2 separate regions of the Homo sapiens genome follow, and region 2 is linked to region 1. The links come from fine-mapping of genetic effects on gene expression. A gene starts in region 1. The other region holds a variant in brackets. All regions are shown on one strand. Distances are from middle to middle.

What was found. PIP is the estimated chance that this variant, and not a neighbour inherited with it, causes the effect.
Region 2: its variant is fine-mapped to the expression of CLPX in whole blood (INTERVAL, PIP 0.99).

Annotation. Positions count from the first base shown.
Region 1 is chr15:65,175,269-65,188,879 of GRCh38, forward strand. It overlaps CLPX (caseinolytic mitochondrial matrix peptidase chaperone subunit X), which reads right to left and starts at 10,074. Exons shown (of 14, transcript NM_006660.5): 1 at 9,807-10,074; 2 at 4,776-4,936; 3 at 3,666-3,783. The coding sequence starts at 9,885. RefSeq lists an enhancer at 9,707-10,591 and a silencer at 10,013-10,322.
Region 2 is chr15:65,231,003-65,246,726 of GRCh38, forward strand. It overlaps a transcript of PARP16 not described here. Among named protein-coding and RNA genes, the nearest start is that of CILP, 27 kb to the left of the region's middle. RefSeq lists enhancers at 8,766-9,266, 9,267-9,767. The variant G/A (reference allele first, on the strand shown) is at 6,827.

The DNA of each region.
Region 1 (13,611 bases):
TGAGGTCAGGAATTCGAGACCAGCCTGGCCAACAAGGTGAAACCCCGTCTCTACTAAAAATACAAAAATTAGCCTGGCATGGTGGTGGGCACCTGTAATCCCAGCTACTTGGGAGGCTGCGGCTGAGGCACCTGAGGCTGGCACTTGAATCCAGGTGGCAGAAGTTGCAGTGAGCCAAGATCGCGCCACTGCACTCCAGCCTGGGTGAGAACAGTGAAACTCTGCCTCAGAAAAACAATAGAAACAAAAAACAAACAAAAAAACAGGCTGAGTTATCCCTTAACCAAAATGCACGGGACCAGAAGTGTTTCAGAGTTCAAATGTTTTCACGTTTTGGAATATTCACAGAAATACACTGGTTAAGCACCCCTACATGAAATCTGAAATCTGAAATGCTCCAATGGAGCATTTCCTTTAAGCGTCATGACGCACTCAAAAGGATTTCAGAGCATTTTGAATTCCAGATTTTCAGACTACGGATGCTCAACCTGTTAGTAACCTGAGATCAAATAAAACTCTCTTTAGGACTATGAAGACCCAACTTTTAATGATCAGACACAGAAGGATTCAAAAGGATGCATTCTGAAAAGACTTTTATTATGGGTACACAAAACTAAGGGAGGAGGGGCTCACTGCACTGCTAGGGCCTACAAATAGTTAGAGGACAGGGACAGTGTCATGATCATCTGCATATTTTCTGAGCCTAGTGATGTCTGAATCAACACATTTGCTATTAATTTTGCACATAAGTGTGTGCTCTTTTTTTCATTCTTTCCTTCTACATTTTCTACTCCCATATCACCACCCACAATTAGAATTCTCAAAGCAAACAGGCCTCAGCCTTGAATTGATTACACTAAAGTAGTGTTTCCACACTTGGTCTAACTAATAATATACATATACTACTAACATACAAATTCTAGGACTCCATCCCACATCTACAGAATCTTAATCTCTAGGGAAGGAGTTTGGGAATCTCTAAGTTTAACAGTCACCTTCAGTGACTAATACAACCTGGCAAGTTTTGGAAAGAATGCATAGAAGGAAAATAAATTTAATCCCAAGAGGAGCTAGTTTACTCCTAAAGTATCTCCAGATGGTAGAAATGTATGATATAGGAATTTCTGAATAGCAAATCTTCACTGCTATGTGACCTTGAATGAGTTACTTAAACTTGCTAAATCTCAGTTTATTTATAAAAAGGAGAATACTCTTTGTTCTGGCAAAATTAAGGGTGCAAGAATAAAACTATATATGTTGGCATTTATTAAATATTAGTTTCTTTCCTTTTCTACTCTAAGAAATTATTCTTTTTTCTTTTTTTTCTTTCTTTTTTTTTTTTTGGAGACGGAGTTTCACTCTTGTTTCCCAGGCTAGAGTGCAGTGGTGTGATCTCGGCTCACTGCAGCCTCCGCTTCCTAGGTTCAAGCAATTCTCCTGCCTCGGCTTCCTGAGTAGTTGGGATTACAGGTGCCCGCCACCACGCCCAGCTAATTTTGTATTTTTAGTAGAGACGGGGTTTCACCACGTTGGCCAGGCTGGTCTTGAACGCCTCACCTCTGGTGATCTGCCTACCTCAGCCTCCCATAGTGCTGGGATTACAGGTGTAAGCCACCGCGCCTGGCAACAAATTATTCTTTAGGTCTATAAAGGTTGAAATGTTTCTTTGAAGAAAAAAAAAGGAGGAAAATTTCTTGATTAAAATATAAGACACTGACCTTATAAATTGAACAATTTTCAGCCTCTGTATAATTTTATTATATCACATCAAATTTGTTTAGAAGGTTTTATCATCCAGTTCTACCTTTTTTTTTTGAGATGGAGTTTCACTCTGTCGCCCAGGCTGGAGAAGTGCAGTGGTGTGATTTTGGCTCACCATGACCTCCACCTCCCAGGTTCAAGAGATTCTCCTGTCTCAGCCTCCCGAACAGCTGGGACTTCAGATGCACGCCACCACGCCCGGCTAATTTTTGTATTTTTAGTAGAGATGGGGTTTCACCATATTGAGCAGGCTGGTCTCAAGCTCCTGACCTCAAGTGATCAGCCCGCCTCGGCCTCCCAAAGTCCTGTGATTACTGGTGTGAGCCACAGCGCCTGGCCCACTTTCATTTTATGTTGTGATCCAAATTAAATTTTGTTCAGAACCCCTAATATTCCAGCTATGGGATGGAGCTACTTTAAGTCTTTCCAGTACATAAAAACACACTACATCTAGTACCTTTTCATATGGTGGCCAATTATGGTTAATGGTAAGTGTGAAATTGTAACCAAAGTCTCAATATTAGGGTTAGGAGATAGAGAATACTCTCTAGCCAACCATCAGACACTGAAGTCTTACAATCTTGAAGCTTTCTTCAATTGGATTGTATAGGAAGGCTGACATGGTGGTACAATTCATTACCATTAACTCTAAATTATGTTAAGTAATGAGTTTTTTGATTATTTGATTCATTAATGAAAATATCTGTAGTAGAATCTTTGCATTTCAGAGAGTTACTGACACTAACAGCAAAAGTAGGATACATGATTTTTTTCCTTCTTTTTTTCTTTTTTTGAGACAGGTTCTTGCTTTGTCGCCGAGGCTGGAATTCAATGGCTGGCTCGCTGCTGCCTCACCTCCCAGGCTCAAGCGATCCTCCTACCTCAGCCCCTAAGTAGCTGGAACTATAGCCATGCACCACCATGCCTAGCTAATTTTATTTTTTTATACATATGGGGTTTTGCCATGTTGCTCAGGCTGGTTTTGAACTTCTGGGCTCAAGCACTCTGCCTACCTCAGCCTCTGAAAGTGCTGGGATTACAGGTGTGAGTCACTGTGCCCAGCCCTGATTTCTTCCTTCTCTGAGTGTCTGAATCATTAATAATTATCAGATGCTTCCCGGAATTGAGGGCTTACCTCCTTTGGTAAGTACTAAGGGAAATTACCTTAATATATGAATGACTGGCCTTCCCAGCCATGTGAGATATTCAATATGTATTTGAAGAAAGTAGTAATAAATACAGAATAAATAAGTCTTGGTTCTCCTATAGCCTAATGATCACATCCAGAAATTCACAAAATCTAATTTGAAATAAACACAAGTAAGCAAAATAAAGAAGCAAATGTTTTTCTTAAATTATCTCTTACACAACAGTGCAAAGTATTACCAGTCCTGAAGATTTTCTAGTATATAGTGAACATAAGAGAGAATCAGGTAAGCTCATACAATTTACATATAATTTATATAACATACAAAGTCACATACATTTATCTATTTCATATAATCCATATTTCTACACATTTAATACAATTTATATATATATATTTCTTTTTTTTGAGACAGGGTCTCTGTCACCCAGGATGGGGTACAGTGGCATGACCATGGCTCACTGCAGCCTCAACCTTCTTAAAAGAAGTAGCTAAGACCACAGGTATGCACCACCATACCTGGCTTTTTTTTTTTTTTTGGAAAGACAGGTGTCTCAACATGTTGCCCAGGCAGGTCTTGAACTCCTAGGCTCAAGGGATTCTCCCATCTCCTCCTTCCAAAGTGCTAGGATTATAGGCATAAGCCGTTTGCACCTGGCCTATATTTATACATTTTACATAATTTACATATTTTTATACACTTAGTAATTTACAGAAAATGTAGGGAAAAAAGAACAGTAGAAGATGTAATACTTACATACAAAGGTCTCTACATGTGTGCACAAGTCGCCACATTTAGGACAGCGCAGCTGGTTTCCACCTTTCCCAGAATTCCCAGAGCCTGATTTCTTACTACTTCCCTCACTTGCTGATTTCTAACGTTTATGAAGGAGAAAAAAGGAAGAGTGTCAATTATTAGTTTCAGGCAACCAACTTAAATGTAAACAATACTGTTTGTAATTAATTTTATAATCTTCTATATTTCTAGGATGAAATTATTAGTATATTTTATAATTCTATTACTGGTGTCAGAAGATCTATTTACTTCAAAAATCAAATCAGTTCTAGTAAATACATATATATCTGCAGTCCTCCTTTGTATAACATGTGCCAACATATATAATAAACAGCTTTCATTCAATGACTCAGGCACTAGAAAATTTACTAAGGGTAAAAAACTACATTTCAATGAAATTGAATCAGGAGTTATTATCATGGTAGGTAGTGACTCTGACTATTCTTAGATCTAACTTTTCTCATCTCTAAAATGGGAATAATTTTACTCACATCAGAGTCACTGTTAAGTATGGATATGTAAGTGTCTCACATTTTGTCTAACATATAAAATTAACTCAAGTGTTAGTCAAATTCACGTAATGAAAAAAACTGTTAAGTCACTGACTCAATACAACTACCAACATAAGTTATACTAGCTACAACATAAAGTTATACCAGAAATATGAAATTTTTAGGCTACCAGAGTAGCCCAACATTAAGTTATACCACAAATCTGAAATTTTTAGGTAGAGGATAAAGTGAGGTTTATACTGCCATGGGTTATAAGAGTTATATGAAAGCAGGAAATGATGGCTATTCCTAATTCAATCCTACTGACTGTCATTTAATGACACTTCTTTACTACTTTGGGGTGTAAGAAATTTTAATTACTGCTTACTATGTGCAATGCTTATAAAAGTATTTTAAGGTTCAAAATGAAACATCTAATTACATAAAATTATTCAGATCATTTTAGCTATCTCATATTTCCTACAGAAAACATATAAGCCAGTAAGAGACAGTACTGTTATATTTTTTTAAAGGAGGGAACTCACAATGTGTACAGATGCCAATAAGATAAAATAATTACCTTATTTCCATCTCCAGAACCATCTTTACTTATCCCATCTTTTGAGGCAAAGTATGCTGGTGTTTCTGTAAAGGATCTAAGAGGAGCTCTTTGCAGAATCTGAGTTTCAAATGTCCCAAGCCTTCCTAAAACTGACATATGAATGCGACCACCAGAAATACCTGAAAATAAAAGGAAATCTACATCAAATATAGACATGCCTCAATAAATCCCCTGGAAACAAAAATTCCTTGAGCATAAAGGAGGTTGAAAAAAAGCTATCATTTTCACAGTAGTATAAACTGAGAGAAAAAAAATGACACCAACGGAGGCAAAGTCCTTTCAAAAACAGGCCAGCAGGTCTGGGCCTCTGAAAGATTCTAAATAAATAAAGGTGTTTCTTTCTGTATGTGTCCTTTGGAAATAAGGCAAGATCACCCACGTCATAACTTTTTCAAAGTTTGAATGGACTTCAACATCTGCCTCACCTGTAAGATTTTGAAAAAGGCCATTTATGCCCTATATTCTTATTATTTCTACCAATGAGAATAAACATCTGACAGCAACTCATCTGTTATTATATAAGAATACTATCTGGGCCGGGTGTGGTGGCTCACCCCTGTAATCCTAGCATTTTGGGAGGCCTAGGCGGGTGGATCACTAGAGGTCAGGAGTTCAAAACCAGCCTGGCCAACATGGTGAAACCCCGTCTCTACTAAAAATAAAAAAAAATTGGCCACGCATGGTGGTGGGCGCCTTTAATCCCAGCTACTCGGGAGGCTGAGGCAGGAAAATCGCTTGAACCCGGGAGGCGAAGTTTGCAGCGAACTGAAGTCGTGCCACCGCACTCCAGCCTGGGTGACATAGCGAGACTCCATCTCAAAAAAAAAAAAAAAAATCTGTAACAATGGAAACAAACTTCAAATGTTCTTTAAGGTCAGGCGCGGTGGCTCATGCCTGTAATCCCAGGGTTCGAGACCAGCCTGGCCAACGTGGTGAAACCCTGTCTCTACTAAAAATACAAAAATTAGCTGGGTGTGCTAGCAGGCGTCTGTAATCCCAGCTACTCAGGAGGCTGAGGCAGGCGAATTGCTTGAACCCAGGAGGCAGAGGTTGCAGTGAGCCAAGATCATGCCACTGCACTCCAGCCTGGGCAACAGAGGGAGACTCTGTCTCAAAAAAAAAAAAAGTTCTTTAAAAAATTGTGTTATTCCACTTACACGTGGTACTTAGAAGGCAAAATCATAGAGTCAGTGAGTAGAATGGCGGTTCCTGGGGGTTGGGGAAAATGGAGAGTTATTGTTGTAATGGGTACAGAGCTTCAGTTTCACAAGATGATGGCAATGGTTGCACAGTATCAATGTACTTAATACTACCGAACTATACACTAAAAATAGTTAAGTCTTGTAAATTTTATATGTATCTTACCACAATAAAAAAATTGAAGGAGCCAGGTGTGATGGCTCACGCCTGTAATCCCAGCACTTTGGGAGGTTGAGGTGGGTGGATCACTTGAGGTTAGGAGTTTAAGACCAGCCTGGCCAACATGGTGAAACCCTGTCTCTACTAAAGATACAAAAAGTAGCCAGGCGTGGTGACAGGTGCCTGTAATCCCAGCTACTTGGGAAGCTGAGGCAGGGGAATCACTTGAACGAGGCAGAGGTTGCAGTGAGCCGAGATTGCGCCACTGTACTCCAGCCTGTGCAACGGAGCGAGGCTCTGTCGCAAAATAAATAAATAAATAAATAAATAAATAAATAAATAAATAAATAAAGATAGTATCAATCCCAAAAGTAGGCTTAGAAAAAGTAATTGAGGGGGCCAGGTGCAGTGACTCATGCCAGTAATCCCAGCACTTTGGGAGGCCCAGGGGGGCAGATCATAAGGTCAGGAGATCGAGACCATCCTGGCTAATACGGTGCAACCCCATCTCTACTAAAAATACAAAAAATTAGCTGGGCATGGTGACACGCGCCTGTAGTCTCAGCTACCCGGGATGCTGAGGCAGAAGAATCGCTTGAACCCAGGAAGCAGAGGTTGCAGTGAACCGAGATGGCACCACTGCACTCCAGCTTAAGCAACAGAGTCTCCGTCTCAAAAAAAAAAAAAAAGAAAGAAAGAAAGAAAAAGAAAAAGTAATTGAGGGAGAGTGACAGATGCAATCAATCAAAATGACCATTCACCAATCATAAAATCCTCATAAAAATGATAAAGCTCTGTAGCAAAGTAATTGGGATTTCTAACACTTTTTGTGCCATGAACCCCTTAAGCAGTCTGGTGAAGCCTCTGAATAGATCTTCTCAGAATAATATTTTTAAATGTATAAAATAAAATACATAACAAAGGAAACAAATTATAATGAAGTAGTTATCAAAAAATTTTTAAAATATGCCTCTTTATTAACAAGCAAAATTAAATAAGATCTAACAGCTTTTTAAATAATTACTATGATTTCAAAGTAGCAAAAAGTATGGACAATATTCTGAAATATCAGCAACTATAATGTGATATGAAAATATTTCTGATTTTGATTGATGACAAATCCACAGACACTTCTAAGACTACTGTGGATGTGTTGCCCACATTCATAGGCCAAGGAAACGTTGTGTTTCAGTTAGAGCTTAGTGAAAATAAAGTTCACAGAATCTCTGAATTCTATTCAAGGACCCTTTGGAGGCCTGTAAACCCCAGGTGAAGCTCTGAAAGCCAAAAAAGAGAAGTGTTTCTGTAAAGTATATTTCACCAGATTACCTGGCAGCAACCAGAAAAGACAATTTAAGTTTCACTATTTACAGAACTTTATCATACAGACAAAGCTTTCTAAATTTCAGAACAACTGTTTTTAAAAAGAAATACTAGTCCGGGTGCGGTGGCTCAAGCCTGTAATCCTAGCACTTTGGGAGGCCAAGGCGGGTGATCTCCTGGGGTCCAGGAGTTGGAGTCCAGCCTGACGAACATGGCAAAATCCCGTCTCTACTAAAAATATAAAAATTAGTGGGGCGTGGTGGCGCGCGCCTGTAACCCCAGCTTACTCAGGAGGCTGAGGCAGAAGAATTGCTTGAACCCAGGAGACGGAGGTTGCAGTGAGCCGAGATCGCGCTACTGCACTCCAGCCCGGGCAACTTAGCAGATTCCATCAAGACAGACACACAAAAAGAGGCCAGGCGCGGTGGCTCACGCCTGTAATCCCAGCACTTTGGGAGGCCGAGGCGGACGGATCACAAGATCAGGAGATCGAGACCATCCTGGCTAACACGGTGAAACCCCGTCTCTACTAAAAATACAAAAATTAGCCAGGCGTGGTGGCGGGCGCCTGCAGTCCCAGCTACTCGGGAGGCTGAGGCAGGAGAATGGCGTGAACCCAGGAGGCGGAGTTTGCAGTAAACTGAGATCTGGCCACTGCACTCCAGCCTGAGCGACAGAGCGAGACTCTGTCTCAAAAAAAAAAAAAAAAAAAAAAGAAAGAAAATAAGACAGACAGAAAGACAGATAGTAGATGGAAAGAAAGACAGAAAGGAAAGAAAGACAGGAAGGAAGGAAAGGAAGGAAGGAAGGAAGGAGAAAAGAAAAGAAAAAGAAAGAAAACAGTCGTTTTGAAAAGAAAAAAAAATAACTGCCTATCTCCTATGATTCAAAAATGTTCACGGACTCTTGGCTACAAGAGATCAGTAACACTTTCAAAGAAGCCGTCCCTGACCAAAGGGAACACACACATACTTCATCCACCCACTGGAAACTGTATTATTCTTTGTCTACTCCACTAGATTTAAACATGAGGGTGAGGACTTATTCACCACTCTACCTCCAGCACTAAAAGAAGGCCTGACACACAGTGGACCCTTGACAAATATTAATATATATCAGATAAATGGATTAAAATATGTCACTTTAAAGTGTTTGCAAATCGAATTCCTGGAATCGGGACATCTACTGGTTGAGGCTTAACATCGATTTAGGATTAAATTTACTCCCTTACATTTATATATCATTTTACAAAATGCTTCTGCCCACGTTACCTCATTCAATCCTTCCTTCTGTAGTAAAGAAACTGGAAGATATATTTAGTAAACAATAAGGATTTTATAATTGGCTTAGAAGTTAGATAAAAGGGGCCTTTTTAAAAATCCATCCAAGGGTCATAAACCGATAAGCCAAAATAAAACGAATTTGTCTAGAAGTCAGTCATTATAACAGGATCTAGCCTCGTGGTCTGACTTCCACAGATTTGAGGAAGAGAAAAAAAGTTTATTTTCCAGACTCTCTTGGCTGGGGCGCCATTCTTTCACAGCTTCAGATAAACAGAAAGAAAAGGTAAACAACATGCGCCACTCTTAGGAAACTACCTCCCGGTCAAGTTGGGAAAGCCAGCAAAGGACTGCTGAAACACCCAAGTACTTCCGAACCAACTCCTGCGGGACTTCTCCCCATCTCTCCCGCCGCTGTCCTGCGGGCCCCGGGGCTTGCCTGACGCCGGGAAGTATTGTGAACCTTGTTTATGTCCCAGTGTCAGGGCCGCACAGTGATAGTAACATCTCGGGTATCGCGCGGCTTGCGTCCGGGACGGCCAGCTGGGTGCCCCGAGTCCTGGGGGACCCTAGTAGGGACAGATCCTCAGCCGAGCCCCTCCTGGAGCCCCCAACGGGCCCGAGGGGGATCCCGGCCAGGCTGCGGAAGAAGAGCCGCAGCCATGGCAGGCGGCGGTCCCCGGCAGGGCTGAGTGGGATCTGGAGACATTTTTTAATAACAGGAGCATTTTGTGCCTTTCAGGGTTTCTACAAAGTGGCCGCATTCCGGCCCCAAAGTCAGCAGGCCTGAAAGCGTGCAGGCAGGCGCGTGGGAAGGAGTTTACTTCCAATTTGAGCAACGGCTGCTCCAGAGGTTGGCAGAGCCCCATTCCACGGGGAAAGTGGTGGGTGCCGGGCGAAGCGCCGCGCATTCCCTCACACTCCCCGGGTGCAGCAGGCCTCGTGCCCTCCCCGGGGCCCCCAACCATTGGCCAGTCCACCCCCCCCCCGACAGGCTGAGGGCTCAGGAGTGGCACTATTTCGTTACCTCTCTGCGCGGAGGCGAGTGAGGAGGTGATGAGCCGGACGGCCGCCGCGCCGCAAGTACAAGCACCGCAGCTGGGCATCTCCGCGAGGCCTAGGCCGGGGCTTCGCCCCCTGAGGACCTCCGGGTCACAGCGGCGTGAATCCTGCCCGCAAGGCGCGCTGACTCGGTTCCGAACCCTTTCGCGGGCCCTAGACCCCGTGGAGAGTTCACCTGCCCGGCAGCCAGGCCTTCACGCTTCTCTGCCCCACAGCCGTCTATTCACCAGAGTAGACACCCAACCCCCCCCTCCCTTCCCCTCCTTCTCCTTCTACCCCCACCCCCAGCCTACTGGGCCCGGGGAGCTTGCGCGCGCCTGCGCCCTAGGCCCGGGGAGGGGGCGGAGGGCGTGGGCACGCGCCGTGTTTGCGAGCTGGTGAAGCTACGTGAGGCGAAGGCGAGGGGGTGGTGCCCTGGGCGCCAATGAGTTCCCTACGGCAAGCGTCTAGCCCCAACTGGGGCGACTACAGGTCCCGACGCTCAAGGTTGCCAAAAGCCCTTTTATCCTAAAGTTGAAAGGTTTTGCGATAGACGCGGAGAGATGCATGCCGGGACTTGTAGTCCCGAGTCGTCATAGTCGAGCTCTTCCGGTCACTTTTAGTGGGCGGCAGGGAAGGTCAAGGTGAGGCTGGTGGCTTAACCCTCCAGGGGGAAGTCTCTAAAGTGCCTTGGTAGGCGCTGGATGCTTCAGATTCACTAAATTTCTTCCCCCGGAATTCCACATCCTGTGTTCCTTATCTTCTCATTCTCCTTAGTTTCATCACTTGTAACATGGAGTTGGTATTGTCAGTTAGTTCCCTGAGCAGCAATTGTTAGTTGGTAACAGCTCCGTCTCCTTGTTCTTTCAGGCCTCGTGGTGATAAAGCTTCTAGCTGTTGCTAGTCCGTGGGTGCTTTAAAGTCTTGAGGGTTTTCTTTTCTTTCTTTCTTTTTTTTAATTTAGTAAAGATGAGGTCTCCCTATGTTGCCCAGGCTGGTCTCAAACTCCTGGGCTCAAGTGATCCTCTCGCCTCGCCCTCCCAAAGTGCTGGGATTACAGGCGTGAGCCACCGCACCCGGCCGTGATTAAGGATGGCACTGCATAGATAACCTCTGGTCAGGTTCCTATCAGGCCATCCTCTCAAGTTATGAATTCAAAAGCACAGAGCCGGCTGGGCGTGGTGGCTCACACCTGTAATCCCAGCACTTTGGGAGGCCGAGGCAGGTGGATCACGAGGTCAGGAGTTTGCGACCAGCCTGACCCACATGGTGAAACCCCATCTCTACTAAAAATACAAAAATTAGGTAGGTGTGGTGGCGTACTCCTGTAATCCCAGCTACTCAGGAGGCTGAGGTGGGAGAATTGCTTGAACCCAGGAGGCGAAGGTTGCAGTGAGCCGATATCGTGCCATTGCACTCCAGCCTGGGCGACAGAGCGAGACTCCGTCTCAAAAAAAAAAAAAAAAAACCCAGAGCCATCTGAGATTATCCCTGTGAGAAAATGGATCCTTCACCAGGAAAGTGATGGCAAATACTTGTGGTCACATCAGCCCTTCCACATCACACCTACTTTCAGCTGTTTTCTGACAGATTAATGACGCTTTAAAAAGAAAGTCAAGTGCAGTTTTCCAGCTCAAATAGTTTACACTGGAGGAGTTAACTCCTTGAGTTATTTACTTTTTGCGAACTACATAGCTGAAGGCACATAACTTTTTTTTTGAGACAGAGTCTCCATCTGTCACCCAGGCTGAAGTGCAGTGGCACCATCTCAGCTCACTGCAACCTCTGCCTCCTGGGTTCAAGTGATTCTCCTGCCTCAGCCTCCTGAGTAGCTGGGATTACAGGCATGCGTCACCATGCCCGGTTAATTTTTGTATTTTTAGTAGAGGCAGAGTTTCACTATGTTGGCCGTGTTAGTTTCAAACCCCTGACCTCAAGTGATCCGCCTGCCTCAGCCTCCCAAAGTGCTGGGATTACAGGCATGAGCCATTGCACCCAGTCAGGCACATAACTTTTTATGTCTTCATTTTATGTAAAACTTTTTCTTTTGTCTTTTTTTTTTTTTTTTTTTTGAGATGGAGTCTCACTCTGTGGCCAGGCTGGAGCGCAGTGGTGCGATCCTGGCTCACTGTAACCTCTGGCTCCTCGGTTCAAGCGATTCTCCTACCTCAGCCTCCTGAGTAGCTGGGACTACAGGCGCACACCACCACGCCCAGCTAGTTTTTGTATTTTTAGTAGAGACGGGGTTTCACCATGTTGGCCAGGATGGTTTTGATCTATTGACCTCATGATCCGCCTGCCTTGGCCTCCCAAAGTGTTGGGATTACAGGTGTGAGCCACCATGCAGGCCCTCTTTTTCTTTTATACTTGATTTTACCTCCCAGCATTATGAGTTGCTATAAGAAATATTTTAATAAATTAGAGTCCATGAGTCTTAACTCACTCAATATTAACCCTGATTTTTTTAGATGAGGAAACAGGCCTATTGAAAAGGCAGATACTTGACCAGGGTCACATAACAAGTGAAAAACAGAGAATAGAGCTGGAGTCTTCTGGCTTTAAAACTGTATTTCTCAAGCTTTTCTTTTTTAACCCAAGACTCTTTTCGATAAACATAAAAATCTCACTTCTCGGCCAGGCGCAGTTTCTCACGCCTGTAATCCCAGCACTTTGGGAGGCCAAGGCAGGTGGATCACCTGAGGTCAGGAGTTCCAGACTGGCCTGGCCAACATGGTGAAACCCCGTCTCTACTAAAAATACAAAAATTAGCCGGGTGTGGTGGCGCACGCCTGTGATCCCAGCTACTCGGGAGGCTAAGGCAGGAGAATCGCTTGAACCTGGGAGGCAGAGGTTGCAGTGAGCTGAGATCGTGACAATGCACTCCAGCCTGGGTGACAAAGCAAGTCTCCATCTCAACAACAACAACAAAAAATCTCGCTTCTCCTCTCCTCCACCAGAAATTCTGGCACATCTTCTCAGAGAGTCATCATTCTTTTGGGAATCTTTGTATCCTCTGAATAAAGACTTTTTTTTTCATGGCCAAACCCTGCTCCTTCATATCAGCAGACATTGATTATCCCTGGAAGGATATAAATATAAATATTGAGGAACTCAGTATTTTAAAAGATAAGGACCTGCATCTGTAGGTGGTGCGAACTCAAGATAATATTAACACATCGTATTGAACTTTATAACTTACAAAGGGTTTTCACATCCACTTTCTCATTTGATTATTACAACAACCAAATGATATATTGTTATTATCAGCATTCCAGTTTTGAAGCTGAGAAAATCAAGACACAGAGAGTTTAAGTGACTTGCCCAAGGTCACAGCAGAACCCAGACTTAAATCCAAATCACCATATGGGTTTCCATTACTTCTCTATATCTTATTCCAAAAGCTGATGAGATTTTAGGGGTCTGCAGAATCTCTACCCCCTACCCAGGAACATCTCACATCAAGGAATAAAAATCTGCCCTCCTATTAAGGAAGTGACCCACCATCTTTCCTTTACTTAAGAATTACTTTGGTTGTAGCCGGGCGCGGTGGCTCAGGCCTGTAGTCCCAGCACTTTGGAGGCTGAGGCTGGCGGATCACGAGGTCAGGAGTTCAAGACCAGCCTGGCCAACCTGGTGAACCCCGTCTCTAAAAATACAAAAATTAGCTGGGCACAGTGATGTGTGCCTGTAGTCCCAGCTACTCAGGAAGCTGAGGCAGGAAAATCGCTTGAACCTGGGAAGCGGAGGTTGCAGTGAGCCGAGATCATGCCACTGCACTCCAGCCTGGGCAG
Region 2 (15,724 bases), 57 kb after region 1:
CTCAGCCTCCGGAGTAACTGGAATTACAGGCACCTGCCATCATGCCTGGCTAGTTTTTACATTTTTGTAGAGATGGGGTTTCACCATGTTGGCCAGGCCAGTCTCGAACTCCTGACATCAGGTGATCTCCCTGCCTCAGCCTCCCAAACTGCTGGGATTACAGGCGTGAGCCACCATGCCCGGCCTAGATATGCCTCTTGTGAACAGCTTATAACTGGGTTCATTTGCTTTGTCTAGTCTAGCAATCTTTGTCTTTTAACTGAGGCATTGAGTCCATTTACATTTATTAATATACTGATATGTGCATGTGTGCGCACACACGTTATTTATTTACGTATATCCTATTGTTTGGTATTTTCCCCACCTTTTCTAAGGTTTCCTTTTCTATTCTTTTTGGCTTTCTTAATTATTCTTTATTTCATTTTTCTCCTTACATAGTTTGCAAATTATACCTTTTTTTTTTTTTTGAGAGTTTCGCTCTGAGTCACCCAGGCTAAAGTGCAGGGTCACGATCTTGGCTCACTGCAACTTCTGCCTCCCCAGTTCAAGAGATTCTTGTGCCTCGCCCTCCAGAGTAGCTGGGACTACAGGCGCACCACCACTCCCAGCTAATACTTGTATTTTTAGTAGAGACGGAGTTTCACCACGTTGGCCAGGCTGGTCTCAAACTCCTGACCTCAAGTGATCTGCCCATCTCGGCCTCCCAAAGTGCTGCAATTACGGGTGTGAGCCGCCATGCTTGGCCTGTGTTTTTAAGCCCATAAGACATTGTTATTAATGTTAATACAACATTTGTTTAGACTTACCCACACATGTACCATTTTCTTTGTTCCATATTCCTTCTTGTCTCTCATTTTTTCCATCTAGGATCACTTTTTATTTCTGCCTGCTGGTGGCAAATACAGTTTTTGTTTGTATCATGTCATTGTTTTTTCTTACTTTTAAGATATCTTTTCACTGATTTTATAATTCTTTTTAAAAATTTTTAGTGCCAATGAATTCTTGCTTATTGTTTGTACCTACAGTTGTGTCCTCCAGCTGCTGTGCCAGTTTAGACTACACCGTCACCTACCTCCTAAAGCACATAGCAAAAGAGGGCAAGGGGGATGGGCATGGTGGCTCAACACTGGTAATCCCAGCACTTTGGGAGTGGTATTTTTCTCTTAAGAATAGGGAAATTAAGATAGGCATTTTTCTTTTCAGTCTGTTGGGAGGTAGTGGTGTTTATATCTAGCTCACACATTCACTGAAGTCCCAATTTTAGGTTTTTTAGACTTCCCACCTTAAAGGAGCCCTGAGTTTCTCTCAGTAGTGTGTATTGGAGTTTGCTCCTATCAGCTCACAAGAACCAAATATTTTTCGTGTCAGTTCTTAGTACCACTGACGGCTTGAAATCTATGGTGGGAACATTTACCTAATGGAAATCAACAAAAACTGAAACACTAAAAAATGTGTGTACAACATTGTGCTTATAGTTAATACTGAACTGTACACAAAACAGTGCTTTGTTTTGTTGGAGAGCCAGTTACTAGCACACCACTGGTTCTCTCTAATCACTCACTCCCATGAGACCATGAAAATTCAAGTTCAAGTTTACTGAGTTAAAAATTACTCACCGGACCAGGCTCAGTGGCTCACACCTATAATCCCTACACTTAGGGAGGCAGAGGCAGAAGGTTAGCTTGAGCCCAAGAGTTCAAGAACTGCCTGGACAACATAGCAAGACCCCATTCTCCACAAAAAGAAAAAACAAATAAATAAATAAAAAATGGGCTGGGTGCAGTGGGTCACACCTGTAATTACAGCACTTTGGAAGGCTGAGGAGGGAGGATCGCGTGAGAACCACAAGTTCAAGACCACCCTAGCCAACATAGTGAGAGCCCCATCTCTACAAAAAACAAAACAAAACAAAACAAACAAAAAAAACAGTTGAGCATGGTGGTGCCACTGCACTCCAGCCTGGGCAACAGAGCAAAACCTTGTCTCAAAAAATAAAAAATTAAAAAGTTTAAAATTTTAAAAAATTAAAATGATGTCGTTTCAGTCACGCAAGATGAATAAGTTCTAGAGAGTTGCTGTACAGTATTGTGCTTATAGTTAATACTGAACTGTACACTTAAAAACCTGTTGACCAGGTGCGGTGGCTCACGCCTGTATTCCCAGCACTTTGGGAGGCCGAGGTGGGCGGATCACCAGGTCAGGAGATTGAGACCATCCTGGCTAACATGGTGAAACCCCGTCTCTACTAAAAATACAAAAAAATTAGCCGGGCGCCTGTAGTCCCAGCTGCTAGGGAGGCTGAGGCAGGAGAATGGTGTCAACCCAGGAGGCGGAGCTTGCAGTGAGCCAAGATCGCGCCACTGCTCTCCAGCCTGGGTGACAGATCGAGACTCCGTCTCAAAAAAAACAAAACCAAAACAAACAAACAAAAACAAAAAATAACTTGTTAAGAGAAGCCGGGCACGGTGGCTCATGCCTGTAATCCCAGTACTTTGGGAGGCCAGGGCAGGCAGATCACTTGAGGCCAGTTCGAGACCAACCTGGCCAACATGGAAAAAACCCATCTCTACTAAAAATACAAAAATTAGTGGGACAGGCTGGCATGCGCCTGTAGTCCCAGCTACTCAGGTGGCTGAGGCACGAGAATCCCTTGAGCCTTGGAGGTGGAGGTTGCAGTGAGCCGGGACTATGCCACTGCACTCCAGCCTGGGTGACAGAGCAAGACTATATCACAAAAATTAAAAAAAAAAAAAAAAATTTAAATTGCAAATAGGTTAGACAATAAAAAATAAAAATAAAATAAAAATGTCCAAAAGGCAAAAGTCAGTTTCGTTGCGCAACTTGCCTTTGAATTCGTGACTTTTTTGGCCTGAGTATTCCTTACTTTCTTGCCAACTCATCAGTGCAGTAAAAAAATTTTTTTTCTTTTATCCATAATTGTTTTCAGAAGTTTATTCAGGGTACTTAGTCCACTTTAGTACCATAAAATATCTTAGTATCTTAACGTAGATATTGAGATAGTTGGACTAGATCAGTAGTTCTTAACATTTTTTGGACACAGACTCGAGAATCTGATAACAGAGCTTGGATAACTTCTCCTCGGGAAAATGCACATACACACAGATAAAATGTATGTTTTTACTCCCCTGAAACTATCCATGGGCCCAAGAATAAGAATGTTGCCCAGGTTGGTCTTGAACTCCTGGCCTTAAGAGATCCTCCCATGTCTGCCTCCAAAGCACTGAGATTACCTGTAGGTGTGAGCCACTGCATCAGGCTCAGAGCTAACTTTTGACAGCCTCTCCATGTTTCCTGTCCTGAGCTGAGAGTTTCCGGGATTCTCTCCTTGGGTGAGCTTGAGTTTCTGAACTGGGGCTTCCAGAATCTCCAAGACCTCTTGGGGGAGAAGCTGAGAGTTGTCAGTTAAACCTTTCACAAAGCTGAAACACACGCAATGTTCATTCAACCAGACCTATCCACATTTATTCATTCGGTGTTTATTGGCTCCTGTTCCAGCTGTCTACTGCTGCATAACATATCATATGTAAACTTAGTGGCTTATATAGTAATAACAATCAATTACATAGTTCTCTCATGATTCTGGGAGTAACTGGGCTCAGCTAGGTAGCTCTTGCTCTGGGTCTCTCATGTGGTTGCAGTCATCCACAAGTGCTGGAATCATCTCAGCCTCTTCAGTACATGTTTGGCAGTTGATGCTGGTTGCAGGTTTGGTTTTCAGTGGGGCTTCTGGCTGTAAAACCTACATGTGGCCTCACTCTCTCTATGTGGCCTGGGTGTCCTCACAGCATGGCAGGTGGGTCCTGAAAGGGAGCATCCAAAAAGAGATTTAAAAAAATTTAAAAAGGGGCCGGGCACAGTGGCTCACGCCTGTAATCCCAGCACTTTGGGAGGCTGAGGCGGGTGGATCATGAGGTCAGGAGATCAAGACCATCCTGGCTAATATGGTGAAACCCCGTCTCTACTAAAAATACAAAAAAAAGGGGTGGGGGAGAGGGATAGCATTAAGAGATATACTTCATGTAAATGACCAGTTAATGGGTGCAGCACACCAACATGGCACATGTATACATATGTAACAAAACTGCACGTTGTGCAAACGTACCCTAGAACTTAAAGTATATTTAAAAAAAAAAATTAGCCGGGCGTAGTGGTGGGCGCCTGTAGTCCCAGCTACTTGGGAGGCTGAGGCAGGAGAATGGCATGAACCTGGGAGGCGGAGCTTGCAGTGAGCCGAGATCGCGCCACTGCACTTCAGCCTGGGCGACAGAAAGAGACTCCGTCCCCCCCAAAAAAAATTAATAAAAAATAAAATAAAATAAAAATTAAAAGAGAATGAGTCAGGAGGAAGCCACATTACCTTTTAGAACCTAGCCACGGATGTCACACAGCATTTCTGTCACATTCTGTTAATTAGATACAAGTCATTAGACCAGCCCATATTTAAAGGAAGGTCAATTAGATTCTACCTCTTGATGGAAAGGATGTCAAAAAATTTGCCGGCCAGGCATGGTGGCTCATATCTGTAATCCCAGCACTTTGGGAGGATGAGGTGGGCAGTTTGTTTGAGCCCAGGGTTCAACACCAGCCCAGGCAATATGGTAAAACCCTATCTCTACAAAAAAAAAAAAAAAAAAAATTAGCCGGGCATGGTGGTACATGCCTGTAGTCCCAGCTACTCAGGAGGCTGAGGTGGGAGGATCGCCTGAGCCTGGAGTCGAGGGGGCAGTGAGCTGTTTAATCGCTCAACTTACCTTTGATTCATAATGGCGTCACTATACTCCAGCCTGGGCGACAGAGTGAGACCCTGTCTTAAAAAAAAAAAAAAATTGCAGATATGGTTTTTTTTTTTTTTTTTTTGAGACTGAGTCTCTCTCTGTTGCCCAGGCTGGAGTGCAGTGGCACGATCTCACTGCAACCTCCGCCTCTCAGGTTCAAGCGATTCTTCTGCCTCAGCCTCCCAAGTAGCTGGGATTACAGGCATGTGCCACCATGCCCAGCTATTTTTTTGTATTTTTAGTAGAGACAGGGTTTCATCATGTTGGCCAAGCTGGTCTCAAACTCCTGACCTCAGGTGATTCACCCACCTCGGCCACCCAAAGTGCTGGGATTACAGGCGTGAGCCACTGTGCCCAGCCCTGCAGACATGTTTTAAACCCACCACATCTCCTTTCTGTTTGTCAAGCACTGGACAAGGCACTTAGAATAGAACGGTGAATACTACAAACCCTGTGGTGCTTACAGTCTAGTGGTAGAGCCAAACATTAATAAAATAACATTACAAATATGTACACAATTATGAACTTTGATGGTCCTATGGAAGATGATTCCAGGGAGCCATGAGAATTTATATGACACATTTTTATGACCTGGACCAGGGAACCAAGAGAGAATTCTCTGCAGAAGAGACATTTGGATTGAGATCTGGAACACCATTGGATGCTAACTCAATGAAGTGGGTTGAACAAGAGCCTTCCAGGCTGAGGGGATACCAGGCCAAGGCCCTAGAGTAGGAGAAACAGCAGCCTGAGAGGCAGCTAGTATGTCTTGAGACAGCTAGCAGGGACAGGAAGTATGAAACAAGACCGCAGTGGTGGGCTAGGGCCAGGCCCCTGGGCACTGTAGGCTGGGTAATGGTATTGGACTTCCGCATAAAAGTTGTGGGAAGCTGGCTGGGCACGGTGGCTTATGCCTGTAATCCCAGCACTCTGAGAGGCCGAGGTGGGCGGATCACGAGGTCAAGAGATCGAGACCATCCTGGCCAACATGGTGAAACCCCATCTCTACTAAAAATACAAAAAATTAGCTGGATGTGGTGGCGGGCACCTGTAGTCCCAGCTACTCGGGAGGCTGAGGCAGGAGAATCACTTGAACCCTGGAGGCAGAGGTTGCAGTGAGCCGAGATTGCACCACTGCACTCTAGCCTGGGCGACAGAGCAAGACTCTGTCTCAAAAAAAAAAAAAAAGAAAAAAAAAAGAAAAAAGGTGTGGAAAGCTGTTGAAGGGTCACATACTGGAGAGTGATATGAACACATTTACAACTTAAAGATCACTTTGGCTGCTGTGTAGATGGCCCCAGCCAGACGCTGAGTCAGGCCTGGGAGGGCTGGGAACCTCCTATCTGCAGTTCCTCCCCTCCCCATGAGACTCTCCCACACAGGCTGAAGCCAGCTGCAGCCTTGGCCCTATACCTCCTTGCCTGAGATTTCAGGCTGAGCACCCTACACTTAACCTACTCAGTCCCTCCTCCCAGACACAGGAAGTCCTGCCATTTTGCATCACTCGGTGAGTCACCCCTTATTTGTCAGTCAGTGGGTGTAATGGATTAAGAGGTGGTCCCAAAAGATGTGTCTACATCCTAATTCCCAGAACCTGTGAATGTAACCAAATTTGGAAAAAAGGGTCTTCATGGATGTAATTAATTAAGGATTTTGAGAAGAGGAGGACATCCTGGATTATCTGGGTGGACCCTAAATTCTATGTGTCCTTAGGGTCTTATAAGGAGTGAGGCACAGGGAGATTTGATTAGAACAGAAGAGGAGGAAGTAGTGTGACCACAGAGAGGGAGATTGGAGTGATGTGGCTATAAGTCAAGGAAGGCCAACAGCTGCCAGAGCTGGAAGAGTCAAAGAACAACATCTCCCCTAGAGCCTCCAGAGGGAGTACAGCCCTGCCAACACCTTGATTTTGGCCCAGTGGTCTGATCTTGAACTTCTGGCCTCCAGAACTGTAAGAGAATAAATCTCTGGTTGTTCTAAGCTGCCCAGTCTGTGGTAATTTGTTACAGCAGCCACAGGAAATTAATGCA[G/A]TTGGGTACTTCTCAAGCTGCTCCTTCCTGATGAGCTGTACAGGCTCCCTCTCCTTCAGGAGACCTCTAAATGTTGGGGTGCCCCGGGCTCAGTTCTCATACTACTTTTTTCTCTATTCTCTGTCCCTACATGATCTCATCCATTCACTTGGCTTTAAAATACCATTCATTTATTGGCTGGACGCAGTGGCTCACGCCTGTAATCCCAGCACTTTGGGAGGCCGAGGCAGGTGGATCACCTGAGGTCCGGAGTTTGAGACCAGCCTGGCCAACATGGTGAAACCCTGCCTCTACTAAAAATACAAAAAATTTATCAGGGCATGGTGGGGCCTGTAATCCCAGCTACTTGGGAGACTGAGGCAGGAGAATTGCTTGAACCCGGGAGGCAGAGTTTGCAGTGAGCTGAGATCATGCCACTGCGCTCTAGCCTGGGCAACAAGAGCAAAAACTCTGCCTCAAAAGAAAAAAAAACATTTATTTGCTAATATCCTCAAATTTTATCTCCATCCAGACCCTTCTCCTGGAGCCCAGGCATCCCCAGAGGTAGATGAAAAGAGAACTCTTGTTCCACGCTCACCACCACATCTGTCCCTGGCCCAGGCTGCCCCAGTCACTCCATGCTCCAGTTGGAAATGTGATAGCTATCCTGGATTTCTCCATTTCCCTCATGCAGTTTATCCAAACTGCTAGCAAGTCTTGTCTTGTTGTTTAGGTCTTATAATCTCTCTCAAATCTGTCCATTCCACTCCGCACTGCCATCACTGCAGCCGCAGCATCTCTCACTCAGGTGACTGTGCCAGCTGCCTGATGACTCCCATGTCGACTCTCATCCCCCTCCATCCCTTCTTACAGCAGCCAGGGTGATTTTTTAAGAAACAAATTAGATCAGGTTGCAGTTTTTTGAATACCTTTATTGAGGTATAGTTGACATGCAATTAATTGCACACTTCAAGCTTACAATTTGCTAAGTTTTGACATATACCCATGAAAGCATCAGTATAATAAAGATAACAACCATATCTATGTGCAGTGGCTCACACCTGTAATCCAAGCAACTCAGGAGGCAGAGGCAGGAGCACTGCTTAAGGCCATGAGTTTGAGACCAGCCTAGGCAACATAGTGAGACCCTATTTCTACAAAAAATAAAAACCAATTAGCCAGGTATGATGGCATGTGCCTGTAGTCCCAGCTACTTGGGAGGCTGAGGCAGGAGGATTCTCTGAGCCTGGGAGTTTGAGGCTGCAGTGAACTGTGATTGCACTACTGCACAGCAGCCTGGGTGACAGAGTGGGATCCCGACTCAAAGAAAAAAAGGAAGGCTGGGTGCGGTGGCTCATGCCTGTAATCCTAGCACTTTGGAAGGCTGAGGTGGGCGGATCACGAGGTCAAGAGATCGAGACCATCCTGGCCAACATGGTGAAACTGCGGTCTCTACTAAAAATACAAAAATTAGCCGGGTGTGGTGGTGTGCGCCTGTAGTCCCAGCTACTCAAGAGGCTGAGGCAGGAGATTCACTTGGACCTGGGAGGCAGAAGTTGCAGTGAGCTGAGATCCCACCACTGCACGCTAGCCTGGCAACAGAGCAAGACTTTGCCTAAAAAAAAAAAAAAAAAAAAAAAAAAAAAGAGAGAAAAGAAAAAAAAAAGAAAAGAAAGAAAAAATGAAAAAGAACTATACCTATGACCTCCAAAAGTTTTCTCGTGCTCCTTTGAAATCCAACTTCCCTTCCCCACCTCCCATTCCTAGGCAATGACTGATATGCTTTCTGCCATTACCAACTAGTTTACATCTTCTGAATTTTATGTGATAGAAAATAGTATGTAATTTTTTCTTTTTTTTTTTTTTTGAGGCAGAGTCTTGCTCTGTCGCCCAGGCTGGAGTGTAGTGGCGCGATCTCCCCTCACTGCAAGCTCCGCCTCCCAGGTTCACGCCATTCTCCTGCCTCAGCCTCCCGAGTAGCTGGGACTACAGGCACCTTCCACCACGCCTGGCTAATTTTTTGTATTTTTAGTAGAGACAGGGTTTCACTGCGTTAACTAGGATGGTCTCGATCTCCTGACTTCATGATCCGCTCACCTCGGCCTCCCAAAGTTTTCGGATTACAGGCGTGAGCCACCGCGTCTGACCTTTTTTTTTTTTTTTTTTTAAATACAGGGTCTCACTCCGTCACCCAGGCTGGCGTGCAATGGCGCGATCACGGCTCACTGCAACTGCAGCCTTGACCTCCTGGGCTCAAGCAATCCTCCCACATCTGCCTCCCAAGTAGCTGGGACTACAGGCATGAACCACGACATGCTCGGCTAATGTTTTTTTTCTTTTCTTTTTTTTGTTTTGAGACAGAGTCTCGCTCTGTCGCCCAGGCTGGAGAGCAGTGGCTCGGCTCACTGCAAGCTCCACCTCCCGGGTTCACGCCATTCTGCTGCCTCAGCCTCTCAAGTAGCTTGGCGCCCGCCACCACGCCTGGCTAGTGTGTGTGTGTGTGGTGGGGGGGGCTAGTGTGTGTGTGTGTGTGTGTGTGTGTGTGTGTGTGTGTGTTGGGATTACAGGCGTGAGCCACAACGCCCGGCCAATTTTTTTGTAGAATGGGGTTTCACCATGTTGCCCAGGCTGGTCTCAAACTCCTGAACTCAATCAATCGCCCACCTCAGCCTCTGAAAGTGCTGAAAGTACAGGCGCAAGCTGCTGTGCCTGGCCTATATACTCTTTTTTATATGGCTTAATAATTTTGAAATTCATCCATGTTCATTGTATCAGTATTTTTTTTATTGCTGAGTAATAAGTATTCCATTGTATGAATATACCACAATTTTTTACCCATTCACTTGATGATGAACATTTGGGCTGTCCAGTTTTTAGCTATTATATGCAAGGCTGCTGTAACCATTCATGTATAGGTCTTTGTATGAGCTTCTGCTGTCGTTTTTCTTGGGTAAATACCTAGGAGAGAAGTGACTGGATCATGTGGTAGGTGTATGTTTAACTTTTTGAGAAATTGCAAAACTGTTTCTATTTTTATTGTTTTGAGACAGAGTCTCACTCTGTTGCCTAGGCTGGAGTGCAGTGGTGCAATCTCGGCTCACTGCAACTTCCGCCTCCTGTGTTCAAGCAATTCTCGTGCCTCAGCCTCCCAAGTAGCTGGGACTGCAGGTGCACACCACCAAACCTGGATAATTTTTTGTATTTTTTTAGTAGAGGTGGGGTTTTGCCATGTTGGCCAGGCTGGTCTTGAACTCCTGACCTCAAGTGATCTGCCCCCCTCAGCCTCCCAAAGTATTGGGATTACAGGTATGAGCCATCATGCCTGTCCAAACTTTTTTTTTTTTTTTTGAGATGGAGTCTCACTCTGTTGCCTAGGCTGAAGTGCAGTGGTGGCATGATCTCAGCTCACTGCAACCTCTGCCTTCCAGGTTCAAGTGATTCTTCTGCCTCAGCCTCCCAAGTAGCTGGGGTTACAGGCGTGTGCCACCACACCCAGCTAATTTTTGTGTTTTTAGTAGAGACGGGGTTTCACCATGTTGGCCAGGCTGGTCTCGAACTCCTGACCTCAGGTGATCCGCCCACCTTGGCCTCCCAAAGTGCTGGGATTACAAGCATGAACCACCATGCCCGGCCAGTTTTCTAAAGTGCTTATACATTCCTACCGCTAGTGTGGAACTGGTTATAGTTGTTTCACATCCTTGCCAACACTTCATATGGTCAGTCTTTTAATTTTCGCTTTTTTAGTGGGTGTGCAGTGGTATTTCACTATGTTTTAGTTTACATTTCTTATAACCAAAGAGGATCCTTTCATGTGCTTATTTGCAATTTGTGTATCTTCTTCAGCAAAGTGTCCGTTGAAAATTTTTGTTCATTTTTTTACATTAGTTTTTTATATTGAGTGTATATATTTTTATGTATTCTAGATACAAATCATTTATTCTTCATATATTCTAAGTATATAAGGAAGTTTTTAAAAAATATATTCTAGATACAAGTCCTTTGTTGGATATATGTTTTGCAAATATTTTCTCCCACCGACAGTTGTCTTTTCGTTTTTCTAGTGGTATCATTAGAGAGCAAAAGTTTTAAATTTTAATGAAGTTTATAAACCTTTTCACTGATTATTAGTGTTTTGCCCAACCTAAGGTTATAAAGATTTTCCCCTACGTCTTCTTCTAGAAGTTGTATAGTTTTTGCTCTTGTAATTAGATTTGTGGCCCACTTGGATTAATTTTTGTGTATGGTGTGAAGTAAGGATAGAGGTTCATTTTGTTTGCCATGAGATATCCAGTTGTTCTAGCACCATTTGTTGAAAATACTATCTTTTCCCCAAAGGTACTTTGTCACCTTCATAAAAAATCAATTGATAATATGTGTATATCTCTATTTCTGGATGGCCTTTTCTTTTTCAGTGATCTATATGTTTATCTTTACATCAATACCACACTGTCTTGATTATTGTAGCTCTGTCTGTAGTCTTGAAATCAGGTAGGGCCAGTAATCTAATTGCATAATACTTTAAAAAATTGTTATGGCTATTCAAGGTCCTTTGCATTTCCACATACATTTAGAATCAGCTTGTTTACTACAAAAAAAAAAAGATTGCTGCAATTTTGACAGGAATTATTTTGAATCTATATGCCAATTTCAGAAAATTGTAATCTTGAAAACATCAGGTCTTCTGATCCATGAACACAGTATCTCTCACCACTTATTTATATCTTCTTTAATTGCTTGCACATCTTTTGTCAGATTTATCCCTGTTTTGGAGTTCTGATGGTATTATAGATTGTTTTTATAATGTCAATTTCCAAGTGTTTTTTGCTTATATAGAGAAACACAATTAGTTTTCATATATTAATCTTGTATCCTGCAACTTTGCTAACCTCAGTTATTCATTTTATTTATTTATTTATTTATTTTTTGAGATGGAGTCCTGCTCGGCTGGCCAGGCTGGAGTGCAGTGGCATGATCTTGGCTCACTGCAACCTCTGCCTCCCAGGTTCAAGCGATTCTCCTGCCTCAGCCTCCTGAGTAGCTGGGATTACAGGTGCCTGCCACCACTCCTGGCTAATTTTTGTATTTTTAGTAGAGACAGGGTTTCACCATGCTGGCCAGGCTGGTCTCGAACTCCTGACCTCAGGTGATCCGCCCACCTCAGCCTCCCAAAGTGCTGGAATTACAGGCGTGAGCCACTGCGCCTGGTCCCTCATTTACTCATTTTAGGTTTCCTAGATTACTTAAGATTTTCCATATATATGTCATTTATAAATAAAGACAGTTTTACTTTTTTCTTTCCAAACTATATGGTTTATATTTTTCTTCCTATATTGCATTGACTAGGACCCCCAGTATAATCTTGAATAGAAGTGGTAAGAACAGATATTTCTTGCCTCATTCTCAATCTTAGAGTGAAAGCATTCAATCTTTAACCATGAAGTATGATTTTGTTGTTGTTTTTAGAGAGTAGGTCTGGCTCTGTTGCCCAGGCTGGAGTGCAGTGGCGCAATCTCAGCTCTGCAACCTCCGCCTCCCCAGGCTCAAGTGGTCCTCCTGCCTCAGCCTCCCAAGTAGCTGGGACTACAGGTATGCACCACCATACCTGGCTAATTTTTGTCTTTTTTGTAGGGACAAGGTTTCACCATGTTGCCCAGGCTGGCCTTGAAATCCTGAGCTCAAGTGATCCACCCTCCTTGACCTCCCAAAGTGCTGGGATTACAGGCGTGAGTGGCCATGCCTTCTTGGAATATCTCTGTCTGGTTTTGGTATCAGGGTAAGGCTGGCCTCATAGAATAAGTTGGGAAGTATTCCCTCCTTTTCAATATTCTGGAAGATTTTATATCAAGTTGGTATTATTTCTTCCTTAAATGTTTAGTAGAGTTCACTAGTGAAGGCATCTGGGCCTGGAGGGTTTCATTTTATTTTTTTTTGTGGGAAGGTTTTTAACTATTATATAAATTCCATTACATATTTATTCTTGAATATGTGTCACACTTTTGTGTAAACCCTCAGGGCCTTCCCCTCACTCCTCCCTAAGTCCTTATTGTGACTCCCAAGGCCCTGTCTCCTGTCTGGTAGGCTCCTGCCCTCCTCTGCAGCCCTTCCACATGCTGCCTTCCCCTTAGGCAAGAACCCCCAAGAAGCTTCTTGCCCACCTCTCTGCTTAAGGGTCTTACTGCCTTCCCCTCACCATGTTCCAGTAATATGGGTCTTCTGGCTATCCCAAGAGTATGCCAAGCTCTTCCCCACCTCAAGCCCTTGGCATTGCCTTTCTCCATCTGGTAAGATCTTCCACAGGCTCTTTGCATGGTCGTTTCTCATTCTCAATCTCCAGGTCTCAGATAATGTGTCAGGAAGGTCTTCCCTGACTTTTGTTATATCCAGGGGATGGCCTGCTGGATACTATCTCCCACATAATCTCATTTACTTCCTTCATATAATATATAATATACAGATCACACTCCATCATTGTTTACTTACTATATTAGTCTGTTCTCATGCTGCTAATAAAGACATACCCAAGACTGGGTAATTTATAAAGGAAAGAGGTTTAATGGACTCACAGTTCCGCATGGCTTGGAGGCCTCACAATCATGGCGGAAGATGAAGGAAGAGCAAAGTCACATCTTACATGGCAGCAGGCAAGAGAGTGTGTGCAAGAGAACTCCCCTTTATAAAACCATCAGATCTCGTGAGACTTATTCACTGTCATGAGAGCAGCACGGGAAAGACCCGCCCCCATGACTCAATGATCTCCCACCGGGTCCCTCCCACAACACATGGGAATTATGGGAATTACAATTCAAGATGAGATTTAGGTGGGGACACAGCCAAGCCATATGGCTTACTTTCAGTGCCTTAAGAGCAAGGATCTTGTCTGTCTTGTTTATGGCTGTATCCCCTGCAGCCAGCACAAGATCTGGCACAAACTAAGTGTTCAATGACTATTTGTTGAATATGTAGACTAACAGGATGGCCTATTGGTTAATCAGGCTGTACATCACAGAAGTAGTGAGTCTCCTGTGAGCCTGTTGGTTGGTCTGAGGATTTGGTCAGCCTGGAGTAGGTCAGGCAGCTGTTGAGTGGGCCACTTACTCTGTGGGGTTGGTCTGTATGACTGACAAGCCAACTGCAAAGCCAGGCCAGGATGCTGGGGGGATACAAGAAGGAAAAGGCCCAGGCCTACCCCTAAGAAGATTCTTGCCCATCTCTATTTAGAGTCTTACTGCTCCCCATTCCCTGGCCAGGAGGTGACACAGGGATGGCCTGGGGGAGTGGGGAGGCTATAGAGCCTGTCCCAAACTGGCAGCTGCTCCTCAGTAATTCTGCTGCAGGGCTTTCAAATCCCATGAACCTCACCTCGTGGCTGCAAGGCTCAGGAAGAGCCTGTGGGGGAGGCACAGAGAGGGCTTTGTGGCTTCCTCGCCACCCCACCTCCTAACCTCCCCTGACCTGGGCTCTCTGCTCATGGAAAGTCCCCCTCTGGACCTGGCTGCCTAGCCCCAGGAGACAGGCGGTAGGACACGTTGCCACTATCTGCTCTCTGCAGGGGCAGAACATGAGCCTGTACCTCTAGGGGCCACTCCTTACAACTGAAGTTGTGCCCTTCATAGACCAGGGGAAGCCCAGCTCTCTGGCTGAGGGAAGAGGCTTTGGATAGAAGCTGGATATGGGACAGTTAATCCCAGATCTCGCCAGGAACACCGCTGCTGTGGGGTCATGGATGTGGCTAGAGTCCCATGGAGTATGTGTAGGAGGGTGTCAGAGCTGCTTGTATGGAAGCAGCTGTTTGCAATAACTAGGCCACAGCACCCAGGCCGCCAGCAATCACCGAGCTTCCATCCTGCTCACTGACAAACTCCATGACCAGGAGGCCCCACTCATGGTGACATCATCCCCTTGCACGCTGCTGAGGGAAATGAGCTCAGGACAGCCATCAGAGGCGGCCTGTTTACTTACAGGGACCCTGGCCGTCAGCAGCTATTTGACCAGACATTCCCTGTCCTGGCCAGCATGAAGCAGAAATTTCCTTAAACACATTACTTTGGCCACAACCCATTGCCTGCTCTCTTGCTTTCAATTTTTTTCAAGAGGAAAATTCCTAGTTCTGGCCCCAAGCAGAGCAGCCAGATATGGTGAGGGGCCGTCACAATGACTCCCAGAGGGCCTTTTGCAGTTTAAGTTACTCCCATCTCCAGGGTAACTCTTAGAGCTGAGAGAACATCAAACCAATTATCTGTGACCCATGTTGGGGATGGCCATTGGGGTGGCCAGCATGACCTCCAGGCAGACCCTCTCCCTGCTTCTCTCAGGGCCTCGGCCACCCTGAGCTCACTTCCAGAGAATTTCCCAACTCAGCAACCCTGGCTGCACCCTAAACCCCTCCCTCAGTCCCTCCAGGTCAGGGATATTTTGGGAGAGCATAAGAGCTGCCAGCTTTAACAGGCTCTAGGGGATTCCCGAGATAGTCACCCCCAGCAACCCTGGCTGAGAGGCACTATCTCCGGACCGCCCCCAACTCTCCTTGTACCTGCTGGAACTCAGCCATTCCAGAGGCCTTGAGGGCACAGGGGTCATGGAGGTCTCCTTGGTCTCTCAGGTGCTCTATGATTCTCAGCCACCTGAGCCAGGAGCAGAGCGATGCGCTCCCAGCAATATCAATCATGGGAGGCAGACGCCCTCCGCCTGTCTGGATGTGCCCATACTGGGGCTGGTCAGGCAGGCACAGACATGTCAGGGAGCTTGAAGACTTACCTGACCCAGCTCTGCCCTGTGGCCTGATCCTATTTAGCTCAACATCCTGCCTCACTGGGTAGGGGCTCAGGGGCAGAATCAGGTCAGAAGAGGGTGTTGAACCTGTCTTTCATAGTACTTATCTGTACACAAGACTGAGAAGATGTCAAGGATCCACATCAGAGA